Homo sapiens: one gene and its partner. The main gene of each other region encodes a partner of the protein of the gene in region 2 in a complex. Links are inferred from orthologs where the notes say so. Each region holds a gene or a part of one and is shown on either strand. Other genes may lie near its edges.

Region 1 (3,749 bases), on a different chromosome or scaffold from region 2:
TAGTGGGCGTATGTCTACTGATGGAAATAAATGAATCAGTGCTTTCATGTCAGTGTGTAACATTTTCTTGGGTTTAGATGTACCTGCTATTGAAGAGGCAAAGTATCCTCTTGATATACTTTATTTCTCTGTAACCCTGGTACTAGAAATGTAGTATAAAATTATTTTTATATTTTCAAATAAAACATTCTGAAAATGCAAAACATCTAAATTAAATGGATGATTATCTTATGGAAAATACTGTGTGAATAAACTCAAAGGAATCCCAAACAAATAATTTAACAGTCATAATAATCCTTTATTAGTACCAGCTCTTAAAATTTTTTTTTTTTGCCAGAGCTAAACAATTTAATATAAAAAATGCCATTTTTTGTCCATACAGTATTTATAAAAAAGTACATAGTGGTTAGTTTTGCAATAATTTCTTTTTAGCCAGATGTCATATCATCATATAAATCTATGAATATAACAAATGACATAAGAACAGTATAAATAAGTTTTTGTAGTATTTACACTTACACAGAAACTAGCCCAAATGGTGTCCTAAGAAATTGTTTACAGTTAAAGTGAAACTACTGATTCAACATACTGACACTCCAATGCTTTTTAAAGTTTCGTATTATTTTCTATACTAGTTTTGGCTATGATTTTGCATAGAATTACTTATAAAGTATGAGCATTTCACATCACAGTAGGAGCTTTTAGTATAATAGTACAAAAAAACTAGCTCAGAAAAGGTCAAATCCTCCTAAATCTAGTTTTTCTTAACATCTGGCTTCTTACTTTTGGGAACAAGGAAAACATTGCCATCTCTTGTTTGCTGCAGGGAGTATTCACTAGGAGAATAAGGTTTTCCATCTTCATCACGTAGCATGCTGAAAACTTCGAGATATAAGGTGCTGAGTTGTTTTTTCAGTAGGTGAAGGCTTTTGTCATTTTCTCCTTTTTCTTTGAGCAATTTTTCTTTTTCATCTTTCAAATGATCTAAATCTTGCTCTAGTTCTACTATATTTTCCAGTTTTCTTTTTCTGCAATTCTGAGCAGCCACTTTATTCTTACCCCTCCTACGTATATCCCGAATTAATGCAAGTTGAGCTTCATTGAACTGCTCTTTGGACATCATTTCGTTGAAGTCAACAACAGGGAGGTTAATGATTTTTTCTACAGGGAATGGGATATGGAGAGCTTTTGCCCTAAGTTCATCTCTTGTGAGATGAGCCTCCAAGCGGCTTGAATGTTTGTCTTTTGTGAATGGGGTTTTCCGATGACCAGGACTTACAGGCAATTCTTTCTCTGGTGTGTTCTCACATTGGGCATCATGCACGTGAGTGCTCTGCCCCTGAGATGGTGACAAGGGTTGTACCATATCCCCAGAAGAATGTACTGGTGTTTTAGGACCATTCTGTTTGACACTTCCAGGGGCACTATCTAGCTCTTCCACTTCAGAATCACTGAGGCCAAGTAGTGTGTCTCCATAGCTGGAAGATTCCACTGAGTGTTCTGGTGATGCCACACTGGGACTTGTGTTTAGTGAAATGCCGGAGTCAGAATCATTGAATTCTGCTGTGCTTTCAGGGTGGTTTTGGTTGAAAGCTTTGCAAAGTGATAGATCAGAAACATCAATGGGCCCATTTAGAAGTTCAGAGAGTGAATGGCTTAAAGTAGCAGGTGAGGGCATGCTGTTGCTGATACTGGGCTCAGCTATGAAAGCAGAATAAAATTCATCACCAAAATCTGTGTTGACTGTGGCATCTGAATTTAATGAGTTCACTGTCAACTGGTTGGGGTCTTCTGTGGAGAGGATGCTGCTGAAGGAATCCTCAAAAGCATTAAGAAAATGTGGACTACAGTTACCTACTTCTTTTTCCATTGAGGGTATAGATGAGTAAAAATGATAATTGTCAACTTCTGTCAGTTTGGCTTCTGGACTTGGAACCATGGTAGTCTCAACCAGCTTGTCATTTTCAATATTAAGACACTGCATGAGAAGGAAGTTTATACTATATAAATCAAAGTTAATCCATGATAATACGTGATAAATTTAGATAAACTCCCTACCCACATTATCTTCAGGCTTATCTCTATAATTTATTATCTATAATTCAGAGATAATTCTCATTTCCAATACATATTTACGCCTAAGCGTTATGTATTATTTTCAGAGTTCCCAGATCAGACGTCAGGTTTATAACATTCTATCCTCAAGATGTCCAACCAATTTAACTAGCATGGGCAGTACTCATGACTAAGTTAATAGCACCCTCCAATCCTTCCTATAAATAGGTGGTATATAAATAATCAGAATGACTAAAGGCACTGAATATAAAAAAAATCTCCAGTATTACATTCTATTTTAGTTACCTGTAACTCAGGAATGGATAATAGCTCCTCCCAAACTTGCTCAATGTCCTGTTGCATACCGTCTAAATCAACAGGGGCTACCTGAGCAACAGAAGTTTCAGGTGACTGAGCCTGATTAGTAGCAATGAAGACTGGGCTCTCGATGTGACCGGGAATATCAGGAACAAGTGACTGAAACGTAGCCGAAGAAACCTAAAATTGATAAGGCATTGATTTATGAGTCTTCCACCAACAGGGGATGAGTAAGCTCTAAGGCACCACTACAAAACAAAATGGAATCAGCTGCAGTTCTGTGTCTCTCTACTTACTAACCAGTCATGACCCCGTTTGTAAATAACAAATCTTTTTTTCCTACCCCACTGACTCAAATTTATAATTTGCTGGTCTGTTTCAGCTTAAGCATTTGAAAGTAAACTTTAAAATGCGTAAGTACAATCTTTAGGATTTAGTTTATATAATATCTAGCACAGTGGTACTAGATAAAACAGATTTATTAAAATTGTTAACTGAACAAGTCTTCGTTTATTGCCCAGCTGGCTCTTTACTCACCAAACCTCTTAGATACTTGCAGCAAATGGGTTATTTGTTTCCATGGTTATGCTGTCCATGTTTCTGGCTATGCAATAGTCAATGGTTTTGGTTTTGTATTGTGTGAAGGGTTTTTTTTTTTCTTAATTGTAAAGTTATTTATAGGCTAAGGTTTCCTTGACAAGAGTATTTCCTTGGTTAAAAAATTTCCTCCTAAAAATGTTTTTATTCTTTTAAATGGAGATTCATTGACGGGACTTACATAGAATAGATTGTTATTTTATAGTTATGATGGAGTTTTTCTATTAACCAGGTTATTTTATACCTCACCTCATTGTCATCTACAAACGGGAATGTCTGCGCCAAAAGCTGCATGCAGTCATCAAAGTACAAAGCATCTGATTTGGGAATGTGGGCAACCTGATAAAAGGGAATGACACAAAGGAAAACAAAAATGGTTAAATATTCCATTGCCAAGCTAAATATTCAATAATTGATGTTCATAAAATATTTATAATCAAGTTAAGTAAATATTTATCTTATTTCAGAGATCACTTTGATGCACAATTTGAACTAGACCACATGGGTTCAGATCTTAGCTCCTCCAATTTTCTGAGTGATCTGGGCAAATTATTTAACCTTTGTGAGCTTCAGTTGCTCATCGTAGATAAAACAGGGATAATGGTAACTAATTAATATAGTTGTGTTAATTAAATCAGTCAGTATATGTTCTTAAAACAGTGCTTGCCACACACAGTAACGCCAGTAATCCCTGCTACTTGGTTCTCCTGCTACTACTTCTGTTGCTGCTACTTGATCCTTACAGGATGTTTCTATACTTTACAAAACTCTTTGGTGTA
Region 2 (3,749 bases):
TCAATCTTTCAAATTCACCCTGGAGGCTCCAGGGGCCTAGAGTTTCCATTTATTATTCACTTACATGGCGAAATCCCATCTATCTTTTTTTTTTTTCTTTTCCTTTCGAGACGTAGTCTCGCGCTGTTGCTCAGGCTGGAGTGCAATGGCAGGATTTCGGCTCACTGCAACCTTCACTTACCCACCACCACACCCGGTTAATTTTTTGTATTTAGTAGAGACGGCGGTCTCACCATATTGGTCAGGCCGGTCTCGAACTCCTAACCTCAGGTGATCCACCCGTCTTGGCCTACCAAAGTGCTAGGATTACAAGCATGAGCCACTGCGCCTGGCCTCTCTATCTTTTAAAAATAATTATAATTTGGATGAAATTTAGATGAATTCTTTTTTTTTCTTTTTTTTTTTTTTTTTTTGAGACAGAGTCTCACTCTGTTGCACAGGCTGGAGTGTGGTGGCGCGATCTCTGCTCACTGCAACCTCTGCCTCCCGGGTTCAAGCAATTCTCTGCCTCAGCCTCCCGAGTAGCTGGGGATTACAGGCGCCCGCCACCACGCCCGGTTAATTTTTGTATTTTTAGTAGAGATGGGGGTTTCACCATGTTGGCCAGGCTGGTCTTGAACTCCTGATCTCGTGATCCACCCACCTCGGCTCCCAAAGTGCTGGGATTACAGATGTGAGCCACCGCACCCAGCCTAGATGAATTCTTTAAAATAAACTTACATACATTTATTTAAAAGTTAACGTTACATGATAAACGGTGTGCATGACAAATCAGTATCCCCAGTCATGAAAAATAGCAATGGTTTCTGTCTCTTGGGAGCCAGCATTCGCATTTAATATTTTTATTTTTTATTTACTTATTTATTTTTTTGAGTCAGAGCCTCGCTCTGTGGCGCAGGCTGGAGTGCAGTGCGGTGATCTTGGCTCACTGCACGCTCCGCCTCCCGGGTTCACGCCATTCTCCTGCCTCAGCCTCCTGTGTACCTGGGACTACAGGCGCCCGCCACCACGCCCGGCTAATTTTTTGTATTTTTAGTAGAGACGGGGTTTTATCATGTTAGCCAGGATGGTCTCGATCTCCCGACCTCGTGATCCGCCTGCCTCGGCCTCCCAAAATGCTGGGATTACAGGTGTGAGTCACCGCGCCCGGCCCCGCATTTAGTCTTAATGATAATCTGGTAGGTAGGTGCTATTATATTATTACTTTTTATAGAGAGGAAACTGAACCATAGAGAACTAAGTAAGCGCCCACGGGCACTGAGCTGGTAAGAGGCAGATCCAGGGTTTGAACCCCCCAAAGACGGGTGCCACACGCCTCTTGATAGGAAGTAAATCAAAAATAAAGACAAGGAAGGCCGGGCGCGGTGGCTCACGCCTGTAATCCCAACACTTTGGGAGGCCGAGGCGGGCGGATCATGAGGTCAGGGGTTTGAGACCATCCTGGCCAACATGGTGAAACCCCATCTGTACTAAAAATACAAAAAATTAGCTGGGTATGATGGCGGGCGCCTGTAATCCCAGCTACTCGGGAGGCTGAGGCAGAATTTTTTGAACCCGGGAGGCGGAGGTTGCAGTGAGCCAAGATCGAGCTACTGCACTCCAGCCCAGGTGACAGTGAGAGACTCTGTCTCAATTAAAAAAAAAAAAAAAAAAAAAAGACAAGGAAAACCTGAGGCCTGGGCACAGCGCCTCACACCTATAATCCCAGAACTTTGGGAGGCCAATGGAGTCAGGATCTCTTAAACCCAGGTGTTCAAGACCAGCCTGGGCAACATTGCGAGACCCCATCTCTACAGAAAAACAAACAAACAAACAAAAACTAAAAATTAGCCGGGTGTGGTGGCGCCTGTCTGTGGTCCCAGCTACTCAGGAGGCTGAGGTGGGAGGATCGCTTGAGGCCAGGAGCTCAAGGCTGCAGTGAGCCGCGATTGCGCCACTGCACTCCAGCCTGGGCGTGCAGATCAGAGCGAGACCTTGTCTCTAAAGGAAAAAAAAAAAGAAAGAAAGAAAGAAAAGAAAAGAAAAGAAAACCTAGCGAGGTAGATAATTTTCCCTAGATCCTGCGGCCGCCGGACCACGAGGCCGGCGCTGTGCGTTGTTAAAAGGAGAATAGCAGATGGTGGCGCGCAGCCCCGCGAGGAGACATCCAGCAACGAAATCGGGAGATGGAAGGGACAGTGAGAAGGGGGGCCTGGCTGTGCGCCCCCGCCCGATGCCCCACTCCTCGCCGACGGGCGCCGGGCACCTGCGGGAAGGGCGGGAGAATCGCCGCTCCTTTCCCGCCGCGCCCTTTCCGCCCTCTCCCCGCCTCCTTTTCGGGCGTCCCGAGGCCGCTCCCCAACCGACAACCAAGACCCCGCAGGCCACGCAGCCCTGGAGCCGAGGCCCCCCGACGGCGGAGGCGCCCGCGGGTCCCCTACAGCCAAGGTAAGGCAGGAATCTCCTGGACTGGGTCGCGGTCCCCCGGCTTCCCGGAAGCGCAGTGCGCGGGTGGCATCACTGTGCCCGGAGCCCCTGCGCGCCCCGGCCATCCCCACCCCGAGGGACCCCCTACGGAGGCGACCTGGGGGCTGAGGTGAGCGCTTGGGCAGCAGCGACGGGGAGGGGTGTCCACCCCACCCCTGGTGCGGGCCGGGGCGCGCAGGCCTGGAACTCGGGGTTCAGACTCCCCGCGACTCGGACCACGCGGCTAAGCGCGCTCAGGGTCGCGTGCCCCCGCCCCGCCGCCATGCTGGGCGCCGTGGTGGCCGCGCAGCTGGGCGACAGCAGGCGTGGGCGGGGGTGGGGAGCGGCCCCTCAGCGGTCCCTACCGCCTGAGGCCAGGGCCCGGGGACTTTTATTGTGACACGGCGGGCGCCCGGCTCTGCTTAGTCATGGTGACCTGCGCGCGCTCCGCGCCTCCCCCACGCGCAGCGATGGAGGCGCCGGGGCTCGGGCGGTGGAGGCGGAGCCGGAGCGCGGCCATGGCGGGGTGAGTGAGGCGGGATGTGCCCGGGCTGCGGGCATCGCGGGCCGCGAGCGCCCCTGCGGCCGTGCCCGGAGACCAGGAAAACGGGCGCCACGGCCCAGGGCGCCTCCGAGTTCCCCGCCAGGACTCGGAGGGCCAGGAGGGCGCGACCTGGGTGGATATTTTTGTTGGACGGCGCAACTCTTGGGGTGGCCCGGGAGCGGCGGAAACCGAGCGAGAGAACCAGGAGGCGCTGCGCAGAAGGAGGCCCGGGGGCTCCGAGGCGTTGAGGGGCTCGATCTGCGTTCTGGGGTTGGCAGCCGAGAGGCCGCGGTGGGGTCACTTCCTCGCCTCACTGGGCCTGGTGGAGGCTCAGGAGGGGCATGCGCAGTCGCCCACTTGCCGCTTTGTAGGGTGGGGGAAGTGCCCGGTGCCCAAGGGGCATTGTTGACCGATTGGCCAAAGACCAAGAGGCAAACCCAGGGCCTTGGCACCAGAGTGGGGGCCGAGTGGCACCCAGGGAGGGTGGAGGAGGCCGCTCTGGCAGGCACGGTGGCAGGGCAGTTAGCCAACCACCCGTTTATTGACCCCTGCGCAGTGCCAGGCCCCAGGCGAGAGGCACAGGAGAGGGTTGGCCCGACGCCGACCTACATAGGTCTCCCTGCCATTTGAGGCGCTGGGGCCGGGGACGAGAGACAGTCGATCAACAGACAAGCAAAGGAGGTCATTTCAGTTCCTGACAAGCGCAGTGATGACAATAAAACAGGGAAGAGGAGACTTTGAGTTGAGTCCCAGAAAGAGG

What was found.
Region 1: the proteins of KEAP1 (region 2) and NFE2L2 are in contact, whole or in part, in a crystal structure (PDB 3WN7), measured with the Mus musculus proteins. The link is inferred for Homo sapiens from one-to-one orthologs. Residues at the interface, in NP_001103775.1 of Mus musculus: Tyr334, Ser363, Gly364, Arg380, Asn382, Pro384, Asp385, Gly386, Asn387, Asn414, Arg415, Ser431, Gly433, Cys434, His436, Ile461, Phe478, Gly480, Arg483, Ser508, Gly509, Tyr525, Gln530, Ser555, Ala556, Tyr572, Phe577, Ser602, Gly603; in NP_035032.1 of Mus musculus: Leu19, Ile22, Leu23, Arg25, Gln26, Asp27, Ile28, Asp29, Leu30, Gly31, Val32, Val36, Phe37, Phe39.

Annotation. Positions count from the first base shown.
Region 1 is NC_000002.12:177,230,031-177,233,779, forward strand, and holds the end of NFE2L2 (nuclear factor erythroid 2-related factor 2), read right to left. Parts: intron 3,310-3,749; coding exon 3,220-3,309; intron 2,554-3,219; coding exon 2,362-2,553; intron 1,979-2,361; coding exon 755-1,978; 3' UTR 278-754; downstream 1-277.
Region 2 is NC_000019.10:10,501,919-10,505,667, reverse strand, and holds the start of KEAP1 (kelch-like ECH-associated protein 1), read left to right. Parts: upstream 1-2,311; 5' UTR 2,312-2,427; intron 2,428-2,896; exon of another isoform or gene 2,897-2,971; intron 2,972-3,749. UniProt on the Homo sapiens protein: Substrate-specific adapter of a BCR (BTB-CUL3-RBX1) E3 ubiquitin ligase complex that regulates the response to oxidative stress by targeting NFE2L2/NRF2 for ubiquitination.